Regions from separate parts of the Homo sapiens genome. Here region 1 is linked to region 2. The links come from fine-mapping of genetic effects on gene expression. A gene starts in region 2. The other region holds a variant in brackets. All regions are shown on one strand. Distances are from middle to middle.

Evidence for each region. PIP is the estimated chance that this variant, and not a neighbour inherited with it, causes the effect. A credible set is the group of variants that fine-mapping cannot tell apart.
Region 1: its variant is the best candidate, but not a certain one, in a credible set for the expression of BARX2 in transverse colon (GTEx, PIP 0.53).

What each region holds. Positions count from the first base shown.
Region 1 is chr11:129,458,035-129,463,408 of GRCh38, forward strand. No RefSeq gene overlaps it. Among named protein-coding and RNA genes, the nearest start is that of BARX2, 85 kb to the left of the region's middle. The variant T/C (reference allele first, on the strand shown) is at 2,535.
Region 2 is chr11:129,373,591-129,378,964 of GRCh38, forward strand. It overlaps BARX2 (BARX homeobox 2), which reads left to right and starts at 2,258. Exons shown (of 4, transcript NM_003658.5): 1 at 2,258-2,632. The coding sequence starts at 2,446.

The DNA.
Region 1 (5,374 bases), 84 kb after region 2:
TCAGCTTTCAGGATTGGAGCCAAAATCTCAGAATAAGCAGCAGCCAGAGACATCCTTTCCATTTTGCAGAGGGGTAAACTGGAAGAGATGGCAACGACTTGAGAGAGGGCCTCAAGGCCAACCAGGACCAGAGCCGGTGCAGCCCTGCCCTTAGAAAGCAGTGCCTGGGACCTCCTACCACCAGAAGCTCGTCAGCCACCATCCATGCCAACAAGTATTTCTTCAACATTTATTTTGTGCCTAGCCCTGTGCTAATACTATGGGAGGAAGGTGGGTGGGAGGGGGAGAAGGGGGCAAAGTAACCTGTTCCTTCCCTCAAATACACTAAAATCTTGTTGGAGAAACTTATAATCTAGTGAATTTGGGGGTGGGGCCAGGGATTCCAGCCAAGGTTTTATAATATTTACACCTCCCCTTACGCTGCACGATGGCGTTCTTTCTGGGCAAGAAAGGTGATTCATGGAAGATGCATTCCTAAGCACATCCTCACCAGGCTAAGACACTAAGAGAGGGTTCATGCCTTAGGTAGGCCTCTTGTGCCCCTGGAAGGGTGATTAACACTGGAATAAGAGGTGTTTGCTAAATTCACCTGAGTATGCCTCTAATCCCAGGTTGTTAACCAAATCCTGGGTGGAGAATGGTTTGGGACAAGCAGGCAGATCCAGATAATACTGTCTGTAATCTGGGCACCGATCCTGAGGAAAGTGGCTGCCACCAGCCTGGTTTCCCTGCCTTGCACTTTGCCTTTGCCTTACCCATGGACAGTGGATGGGGCAGCCTTCCTGCCTCCTTTTCCACTCTGCTTGCACTCCATCCAGGTGTGCTCTGGCACTGGCCTCCACCTGCTGCTCTGTGCTGTCAGCCTCTGGCATCTGCAGGTCAGCCACGGCCAGGAGGGGCCGGGGCGGAAACCGCCTGCCGAGGGGTGCTGTGTAAATCACCATGACAGGCTCCTTTCATGCCTGCCGGCCTGGCCTCCTTTCTTTCCCAAACCCTCTTCCTTTCTGTTTATTTTTGTTGCGGATTTATTAGACACACAGTTAAGTGCCCATTTAGCTCTGCAAACTGTCATCATGCCTGCTTCATGATTAAGATCATTCACTCACAAAAGCCTTTAAACATTTTTTTTAAAGAGGGTGGGGGAGGCATGGGGGACAGGAGAGGAGGAGGAAATAGTGCCCCAGGTTAGTGAGGAGGCCAAGAACAACCGAAACCCAAGCAGCGGCCTCTCCTGTAGCTCAAGAATGTAACAAGGGCCCTCACAGTTGCCCTGAATTTACCCTGTTTGTCAAGACATGTATCATCGCTCCTGCAGGATTCTGAGGTCTAGAGTTCTTCTTTGTCTGGGCTGCCAGAGAGCAGACGGTGTGGGGCGGGTTCAGTGGCTGCTGTGCACCTGCTCGAAATGGTTCCCAAGAACCTCTGGGCATGTCAGGCCAAATCTGTGCCCCTTTGGGATCCTCAGTCAATTTCCTCAATCCAAACTCTCTTGGTTTTCCCAGGGCTTCCCTCCTTCTGGTGGCATCTCTTCCCAAGCACCTGGCTCCTTAAACACACAAATTGCTCAGCTGAAAGTAGCAAGAGTCCTAAGTGTGGTGGCTCACGCCTGTAATGCCAAACACTTTGGGAGGCTGAGGTGGGAGGACTGCTTGAGCCCAGGAGGCTGAGGCTGCAGTGTGCTGTGATCATGTCACTGCACCCCAGCCTGGGCAACAGTGCAACCTTGCCACACACACACAAAAGGTAGCTAGAGCCTGGTCCAGTGTCATTTTAATGCATGTAGACTATATATCAGGCACCAGAACAAGGAAGTTCTTTATATCATCACGTTTCATCACCTCAGCAGCCCTATGCAGTAGGTCCTATTACTGTCTCCATTTCAGAGGTGGGGAGACTGAGACTTAATGTGGCTAGGTAACTTGCAGAGTTATCAACACAGCTGGGAGGTTTTTTATCCTTATATTGGGCCTGTGCTTACCTCCAAGGAGTCTGAGTTGGCCAAGCCTGATCTCAGAGCAGAGTGCCGAGGCAGGCTGACCCTGCACCCCCCAGCATGGGTGGGTGCCCCTGCCCCTACACTGCTGTAATGGGGCCATCTCTCACAGCCTACTCTCACTGTTTAGGGTGCAGTCCTCCCCTCGAGTGTGAATGATCAAGCCCTCCATCCACTCACCTGTACTAGCAACAAGTCTGGGTTCCCCGCCACCTCTTTGGTTGTGTATCAGGGGGTCAGGAACATTTGAGGGCATTGGAGTGTGTTGGCACGTGCACTGACCTTGGGAGGGGTGCCAGCCTCTGGAGGAACTTGGAGGGTGAGCCCCCATCTGAAGCACAGTAACAGGACAGCGTCCTCACTGTGGTGCAGCAAGCCTCGCTAGGGTACATGGCTTCCCACATCAGAGCAGGAGGGGCACAAGTGGAAGTTTGAACCTCAGTAGATGCTCCTGGAATGCCAAGTCCTCTGTCCAAGCTGCAGATGAGGATGCTGCCCCTTCTCAGCCATTGTCGCAGTGACCGCTGAGGTCTCAGTAGCC[T/C]TGGGGCCCTGGCTCTGGCCCCAGGATCACTTGGCTTCTGCTCCTTAAAGGCCCGGAGCTACTCTTCCTTTCGCTGCTCCCCCATCTCTTTTTCTTCTCTGGTTTCTCTTTTGGCATTTCTTTTTATTTGCAGTGTGTTTTCAATGCAAATAAAGTCCATAATATGAAAAAGTTACTATGAACAGAGCATAATTACACACATACAATGAACAGTCAAAACAGATGTTCCACAAGCAAATATGAACCAAGAAGGAGTGTTCATTCACCCATACAGAAGCTTGGGATGTGTTGGAGCTGGTTGTTTTGTATTGCTTTCTAAGGATGGCAAATATTTGCTTTTGTTATCAAAGGTACTATGCTTGCTGGGCCCTGGAACACCAGTGCGTGGTCATGGGAATCAGAGACTTCAATGGGTGCATATTTCTAAAGGCTTTTGCCCTCGGAGGCAGCTGTAAAAAACTTTCCAGAATTGAGCCAATTCTAGACTTAGTGGCAGGATCTGACTATTTAAAGCATCAGCTGATATAGAGTGCTCCAAAGACAGCTAACTTTATTCATAAAGGTGAAAAAAAGTATTTATAGACATAGCATACCAGAATTTTTGGGAGGTGAGTTTCCAATGTTCAATTTACTTTATTTTTGACATTTTGAAAATTAAATAAATCTTTTACAATTTTACATATATTTTACATATGTTGAAATAAAAAGCTCTAATTTAAAGTTATTTGGGGTCATATTCCTGTAGCTAAAAGAATCCAGCCCTCTTTTGGTGAATGGGGATGTGTGAAAGGAAATATCTAACTTTTGACCTTTTTAACACATAAACCAGATTTAATAACTAGCCTTAGACTTTGAGTAGCTTCCAGTCCATCATTGCCCTGGCACATGTCAATTACTTACAGCAAGTTAAATGCAAAACCCTAGAAAAGACAATTTAGTTCCCAAGAGAACAGTAAAGGCTTAGCAATGGAAAACTTTAGAGCACATGAGCACTAAATTAGCATTGCTGAAACAATATGAAACATGGAAACTTTTCATATTATCTAAGACTTTTATAAAGCCTTATAGATTTCATAAGCCAAAGTGAAAACTGAATCTCCATTCCACATCCTATTCTTTTACTCTAGATCAGAGGAAGTCTTCTGATTTTTATTCCCAAGACAGAGCATTTAGATGTCCAAATTTCCTGAGCCATATTTAATAAATTTACATCTCCTTTCAGTCTTGAATGAAAAATTCCATTTGCCTGATTTGTCATAGGCATCCACCATCCAATTAAATCCCTCTCCAATCACATTTGGGATTCTCAATATTTTCCTAATCATATTTATGTCAATAAAATTAAAGTGTGTGACGCCTCCATCTTTGTTCTTTTTGCTCAGGATTCCTTTGGCTACCCAGGCTCTTTTTCAGTAGCAAACGACTATTAGGATTGTTTTTTCCATTTCTGTGAAAAATTTCATTGGTATTTTGAGGGAGAATCTATAGATTGCTTTGGGTACTGTGGTCATTTTAATGACATTAATTCTTCTGATCCATGAGCATGGGATGTCTTTCCATTTGTTTGTGTCCTCTTCAATTTCTTTCATCAATGTCTTGTAGTTTTCCTTACAGAGGTTTTTTTTTTTTTTTTTTTTTTTTTTGCCTCCTTAGTTAAATTTATTCCAAGGTATTTTATTTTATTTTTTGATAGCTATTATAAGTATTGTAAGTGGGATTGTCTTCCTAATTTCTTTTTCAGCTAGTTCATTATTGGTGTATAGAAATACTACAGATTTTTATAAGTGAATTTTATATCCTGCAACTTTACTGAATCTGTTTATCAGTTATAAGAGGTTTTTGGTGAAGTCTTCAGGGTTTTCTAAATGTAAGGTCATGTCATCTGCAAAGACGGACAGTTGCCTTTTATTTCTTTCTCTCATCTGATTGCTCTGGCTAAGATTTCAAGTACTTTGTTAAATAGTAGTGGTGAAAGTAGGCATCCCTGTCTTGTACCAGTTCTGAGAGGAAAGGCTTTCAGCTTTTCCCATTCAGTATGTTGTGTGCTATGGGTTTGTCATATATGGCCTTTATTATGTTAAGGTATATTCCTTCTATGCCTAGTTCATTGAGTTTTTCTCATAAAGGGATGTTTAATTTTATCCAGTGTTTTTCTGCATATATTGAGGTGATCATAGAGTTTTTGTCCTTCATCCTATTGGTGATGTATAACATTTATTTATTTACATATGTTGAACCATCCATGCATTCCTGGTATAAATCACACTTCATCATGGTGTATTATCTTTTGATGTGCTGTTGGATTTGGTTTGCTAGCACTTTGTTGAGAATTTTTTTTTTTTTTTTTTTTTTTTTGAGACAGAGTCTCGCTCTGTCGCCCAGGCTGGAGTGCAGTGGCGGGATCTCGGCTCACTGCAAGCTCCGCCTCCCGGGTTCACGCCATTCTCCTGCCTCAGCCTCCCAAGTAGCTGGGACTACAGGCGCCCGCCACTACGCCCGGCTAATTTTTTGTATTTTTAGTAGAGACGGGGTTTCACCGTTTTAGCCGGGATGGTCTCGATCTCCTGACCTCGTGATCCGCCCACCTCGGCCTCCCAAAGTGCTGGGATTACAGGCGTGAGCCACCGCGCCCGGCCGAGAATTTTTGTAATCTGTTTTCAACAGGGATACTGGCCTGTAGTTTTTGTTTTGTTTTTTTTCTTGTGTCTTATCTGATTTTGGTATCAGGGTAATACTGACTTTGTAGCATGAATTGGGTAGAATTTCCTGCTCTTTAATTTTTTGGAATAGTTTGAAGAGAATTGGTGTTCTTTATATGTTTGGTAATTTGGCATTAAATT
Region 2 (5,374 bases):
TGCAGCCGCCTCTGCATGGAGAAAGAGAATGAAAGAAAACAATTCTAGATGGAGAGGAGGGGAGGGGAGGCCAGTTTGCAAATACTTCGGGAATGAAGTTCCTCAAAGACGCGTTGCGGGCCTTGTCTAATGCTAGGCTGTGACTTGGCCTCTTAACATCTATTTTCTCACGCCTGTAATCCCAGCACTTTGGGAGGCGAAGCGGGTGAATCACGAGGTCAGGAGTTCAAGACCAGCCTGGCCAAGATGGTGAAACCTGGTCTCTACTAAAAAATACAAAAGTTAGCCGGGCGCGGTGACAGGCGCCTGTAATCCCAGCTTCTCGGGAGACTGAGGCAGGAGAATCGCTTGAACCTGGGGGGCAGAGGTTGCAATGAGGCGAGATCACGCCACTGCACTCCAGCCTGGGCGACAGAGTGAGGCTCGGTCTCAAAAAAAAAAGAAAAAATCTATTTTCTCTAACAGCCTAATGATTAGTCCTCTGGGCGTGTCCCTCCCTCCTAGTTTAATCACCGGCCCAGGCGCCCTCATTTACTTGCTTCCGCGGCCACCAGGGCCCCCTGGGCAAGCAGCTCCGCAGAGAGCCCGCCGGCACTCGCGGACGCTTCTAGGCTGGGAGCGGGGAGGAAATGTCACCGGCCCCAAACTCGGCCCTAGGGAAGGCCATCCGCGTCTATACTTCTCAGTGTCCCTGTCGTGCGTTTTCCTTCCAACCCCATGCACACTCATTCCAACATAAAGTCGTGGAAACGGGCGTGCACTGGGCTGTTCCCGCCGAACACCGGGCGCGACTCAGGCTGCCGGAGGCTTCCCGGGCGCGGAGGCTCGGCGGGGTCCCCTTTACGCAGCAATTCCAATGAACAACTAAAGTCCGTACAGATTTTGATTGGAACAGACCCTAAGACTAAGAGCCTGGAAAGAAAAAGGCAAATCACCCAATAAACGCCTGTCTTCGCGACTCTCTAACCCGGTCGTATCGCGAGGGATCCGGATATTGAAAGCCCCTTTGCCGGAAGACTCGGGCGCTGGGAGAAGCCCGCATGGGACAGGCTGCCCCAGTGCCCGCCGGCTCCCTAGAATCGTGCAGCTCTGACCCTTTCCAACGAGGAAAAAATGTTTTTATAAACAATGTTTTAAAAAAAACCGCACACTTTTTTAAAAAGTCAGAATCTCGCTCTTGTCGCCCAGGCTGGAGTGCAGTGACGAGATCCCGGCTCACTGCAGCCGCGAACTCCTGGGCTCAAGATTTCCTCCTGCCTAAACCTCTCCAATAGCTGGGACTACAGGTTTCCTCTTGCCTCAACCTCTCCAGTAGCTGGGACTACAGGCGTGCACCACCATGCCTGTTTTTAATTTTTCTTTTGTAAAGACAGGGTCTCCCTATATTGACCAGGCTGGTCTCGAACCTCTGACCTCAAGCTATCGTCTCACGTCGGCCTCCCAAATGTTGGGATTACAGGCTTGAGCCACCGCGCCCGGCGATAACTCACACTTTTATTAGTTTTTCTTTTCTTATCTTTTTTTTTTTCTCAGTTTTTTATGAGGGTAACGGACGGGGCCAGGGTCATTTATGATTTGGGATCTTGGGGCAGTCAAGTTTGCAACTTCAGCTCAAAAGTCTTACGCTCGGAGCGCGCAGGCTCAGCGCGGGCTGCGAGACTGCGAGTGGAGGGCTTGGGAAGCCGCGGTCTTCGGGAAACCGTCCACGCGGGGAAGGAGAAAGGCACGGTGGGTCCTCGGGGGCACTGGCTCTGTGGCCCGAAGTCCCGGGAGCCTAGTGAGGACTAGACTTCTTTCTAGTAAGAGACCTGAACGTGCCCTCCCGCTGGGCTGCGGACACTGGGAGCCGGGCCGGCGGGTGGCAGGACAGGCAGTAAGGTGCTCATGGGGAACACTGCCCCGGGGAGCTACCGGCCTGGGCCTTGGCCGCGGGCTGGGGCGGTGCGCGCTCCCCGCACCGCGCGCACACTCCTGCACACACACCTGGAGCGCGTCCCGGGGGGGAGGGGGAGGAGAGCCAAAACGAGCGTCTTAAAATAGAGAGCCAGGCAGAGGAGCGCGAGACACCAGAGCGGGAGGCAGCGACTGAGAGCCGCCGGGCACTAGGCGCGCAGGTCGGCGCCGGAGTGGCACGGGCGGGCGGGGGCGGGGTGGGCGCGGACGCCCCTCAGCACACACTCCGCACCCGGCCCTGCAGGAAGCTCGCGCTGATTGACAGCTGCGTTGTCCCAAAAAGGCTCAGCGAAGATGCTGATCTGCGGGTGGGTCTAGACGCGCGGCAGGCGCGCCCGCTACCCGCTCTCCTCCGCGCGCCACCCGAGCCCCGCCGCCTCCCCAGCTGCCGGGAGCGGGGCCCAGGCCCCGCCGTCGCGCCAGCCCCGCGGCCCCAGCGGGCCGGGCACTCGCAGCCGCGCTCGGGCCGGCGGACGCTCGCGCCGGCTCACCATGCACTGCCACGCCGAGCTGAGGCTGAGCTCGCCCGGCCAGCTCAAAGCAGCCAGGCGGCGCTACAAGACTTTCATGATCGACGAGATCCTCTCCAAGGAGACCTGCGATTACTTTGAGAAACTTTCCCTCTACTCCGTGTGCCCGTCGCTGGTCGTGCGACCCAAGCCCCTGCATTCCTGTACGGGTAAGACGCTCCGCTAGGGGATAAGTGGGGTTCGGTAGCTTTCACGTCCGTGTAGGTGGCCTGTGCTTTGCGATCCGAGGGCGAGAGGAAGGGTTAAGTTAAGGGATTCTTTTCCTGCGCCTCAGCAAGCGGTGGGCATTGCAAAGGCATCTGCGACGTGGCCGGGAAGGACCACGCAAGGTGTGGATGGCACGAGTGGAAATAAAGGCGGCAGGGCCTTAGGAGTGGGCTGCTCGCGCAACGCCTGATTGTCCTGCTCGGAGGAGAACGCTTCCTCGTTTCCTGCTGAAAGTTCAAACACTTGAGCAGGTTCAGCGTCTAAATCGTTGTTTCAGGAAGTGGTGGTGTGTGTGAATTTCAAACTTGAGCTTGGCGGCCTTGCATCTCACCTTGAGTTAACTTGTCCAGCCTCCTACTGTCTCCACTGTGAATTTTGCAAGTAAATCAGTATCCTGAGGTTCTCAACAAAATCTCGAATTCACTGAGCTTTGCTTACAATGATCGCCCTCTGAGAAAGTAGTTCTGAAGTACATTGTCTTTGTGGCACAAGCCGAAAAGGTCACCCTCGTTTGTCTTAAGTCAAGCCGAAAAGGTCACCCTCGTTTGTCTTAAGTGACCAAAACCAGCAATGGTAACAATGAAAACATTACTCACACCTGGTTTTCTCTCTTCACGGGAGGTAAGAGCAATAGTAAAGATAAAGAGAACTTAATACATATATTGAAAACGTAGTAGAGTTTCTATCGAAAATAAATCCAAGGTACTTTTAAAATTTTGAATGCATTAAGAGAAGATCCAAGTTTCAAAGTATCTCGGCATTGTTAGGATTTAGGTTATGGAACATGGGTATAATAAAACGAAAAAGAAGTAGGAGCACTTTTTATCAGAAAAAAGTTATTGAGTGTGCTTTCCATTAAAGGTAAGCATAAAGTATTTCCAAACCAAAAGAACCTTTGAGATTGTTAGTTGCATGAGAGGCATGAGATAAATTAAATTACACTTAAAATGAAAAAATGAAGGGCCAACAGTTTTGGAAGATATTTTTTGGAACATTTGAGTTGTTAATGCTCAATGCGTGGAATCCTGTATTTTCTCTTGGTTCCATTGATAGTCCCTATATGACAATCAGTAAACATATGATAAATACATACAGTGAAGTTCTTTTAAAACCAAATTGTTCCTACATGTATTTGGTTGTAAAATGTATACTGTATTCAGTTATGCCTTTTTAAAGTTAATTTGTCTGTAAGGTAGAATTAGGCCTGATGTCCCATAACAAGCCTTGTAATACTGAATTTTTAAAACCAAGAAATATATGAAACAAGGAACAAATAAGAAATTTTAGAAACAAGATAGATCTCCTGAGAACTGATATTTTTACATTTGTGTATAGGTGGTTGTGGACCCTTGGACACATACATACTGAATAGGGGTGATAAGTTGAATATTGTTTTGAGCACAAATCATCCTTTGTTATAATAACTCAATTCCCTTCGAGGAAAAAGAGAGGATCTGTTTCAGTCATTAACATTGCGTATGGGACATTCCCAGGACAAAACAGAACAACTTCTAAGCACCTAGGTAGAGCCTAGTGCCGGCAGAATTTTCAGTGACTTTGTGCTGTGTTGACTTGAAGGCAGCTTTTCCTGGCTTATAGGAGTCACAGAATTGGATCATAGAAGAAAACGTGGCAGAAGAGGAGTAATAAATAGCTGCAGAGAATAGTCATTCAGTCAGAGGTGGCTGAGTAAGTGTCGTGTTTTATTGAACCTTGTGTGGGAAATAAATCAGAGGAAAAAAAAATGATTCATATGTAGTTTTGTGAGTGTTATAAGTGAAATGCACGTATTTCACAGACTTAAGTGTTGCTCAGTCTTGTGCTTTTCGAAGTTCACTGATGGTTCGTGGTAGAGGGTGGCTGTTGGCAATGGTTTTCTGGCTCCGTTATTCCAGTACTTTCTTCTTTCGGATTGTTAGTTGAAAATGTGTCGTTATTTTGCTCTAGTTGAGAATTAAAATATAGAAACTGGGATTTGCTGGTGGAATTAAACCCATAAAAACTGGCTACAATAGTTCATACTTTCAGATCATAAGCCTTCAGTGGGTTTACAGTTACAGTTAAAGCCTTACATGTATTAGATCATGGGAATCCCATTAGTGTCTTCTCAGGGGTTTTGCAAATACCATACTTTCAAAGCATTTTTGTTTTTAACAGTTAAGGTCAGGACAAAAATCTTTGATTAGATGAATGTAATCTTTTTTCTTATTAATTAAAAACAACAACAATAAGTTGCTGGCATCCCAAAGGACACTGTAATTTTCTTCTTTTCTTTTCTTTTTCTTTTTTTTTTTTTTTTTTTTGCTAGATGGAACTAAATGTTGAGCACTGGTGGTGGAAGCAATGCATAAAAAGTTCAAGTGAAAGGCATACATTGGAATTAAAGTTACTGAACTTTCTCAGCCTTTCATTTGCTGATTTAAGATTTAAAGACGTGTAACAGAAGTGAACTGTGTCAGGTAAAATAATGAAAACTAAGAGAAAAAAAAGGCCTCAAAATTAAAAAGTTACCAGCATGTACAATAAGTGCATAAAATTGGGATGGAAAGAAAACTACAGCATTAAAAAAAAAAAAAACACTGCATAATGAAACAGTTCATGCTCTGTGGATTTAGTAACCTAAAGGTCAATTTATGGTACCAAATATCAGGCAGAATAGCATGTATTCAAGCAAACTGAGAAAT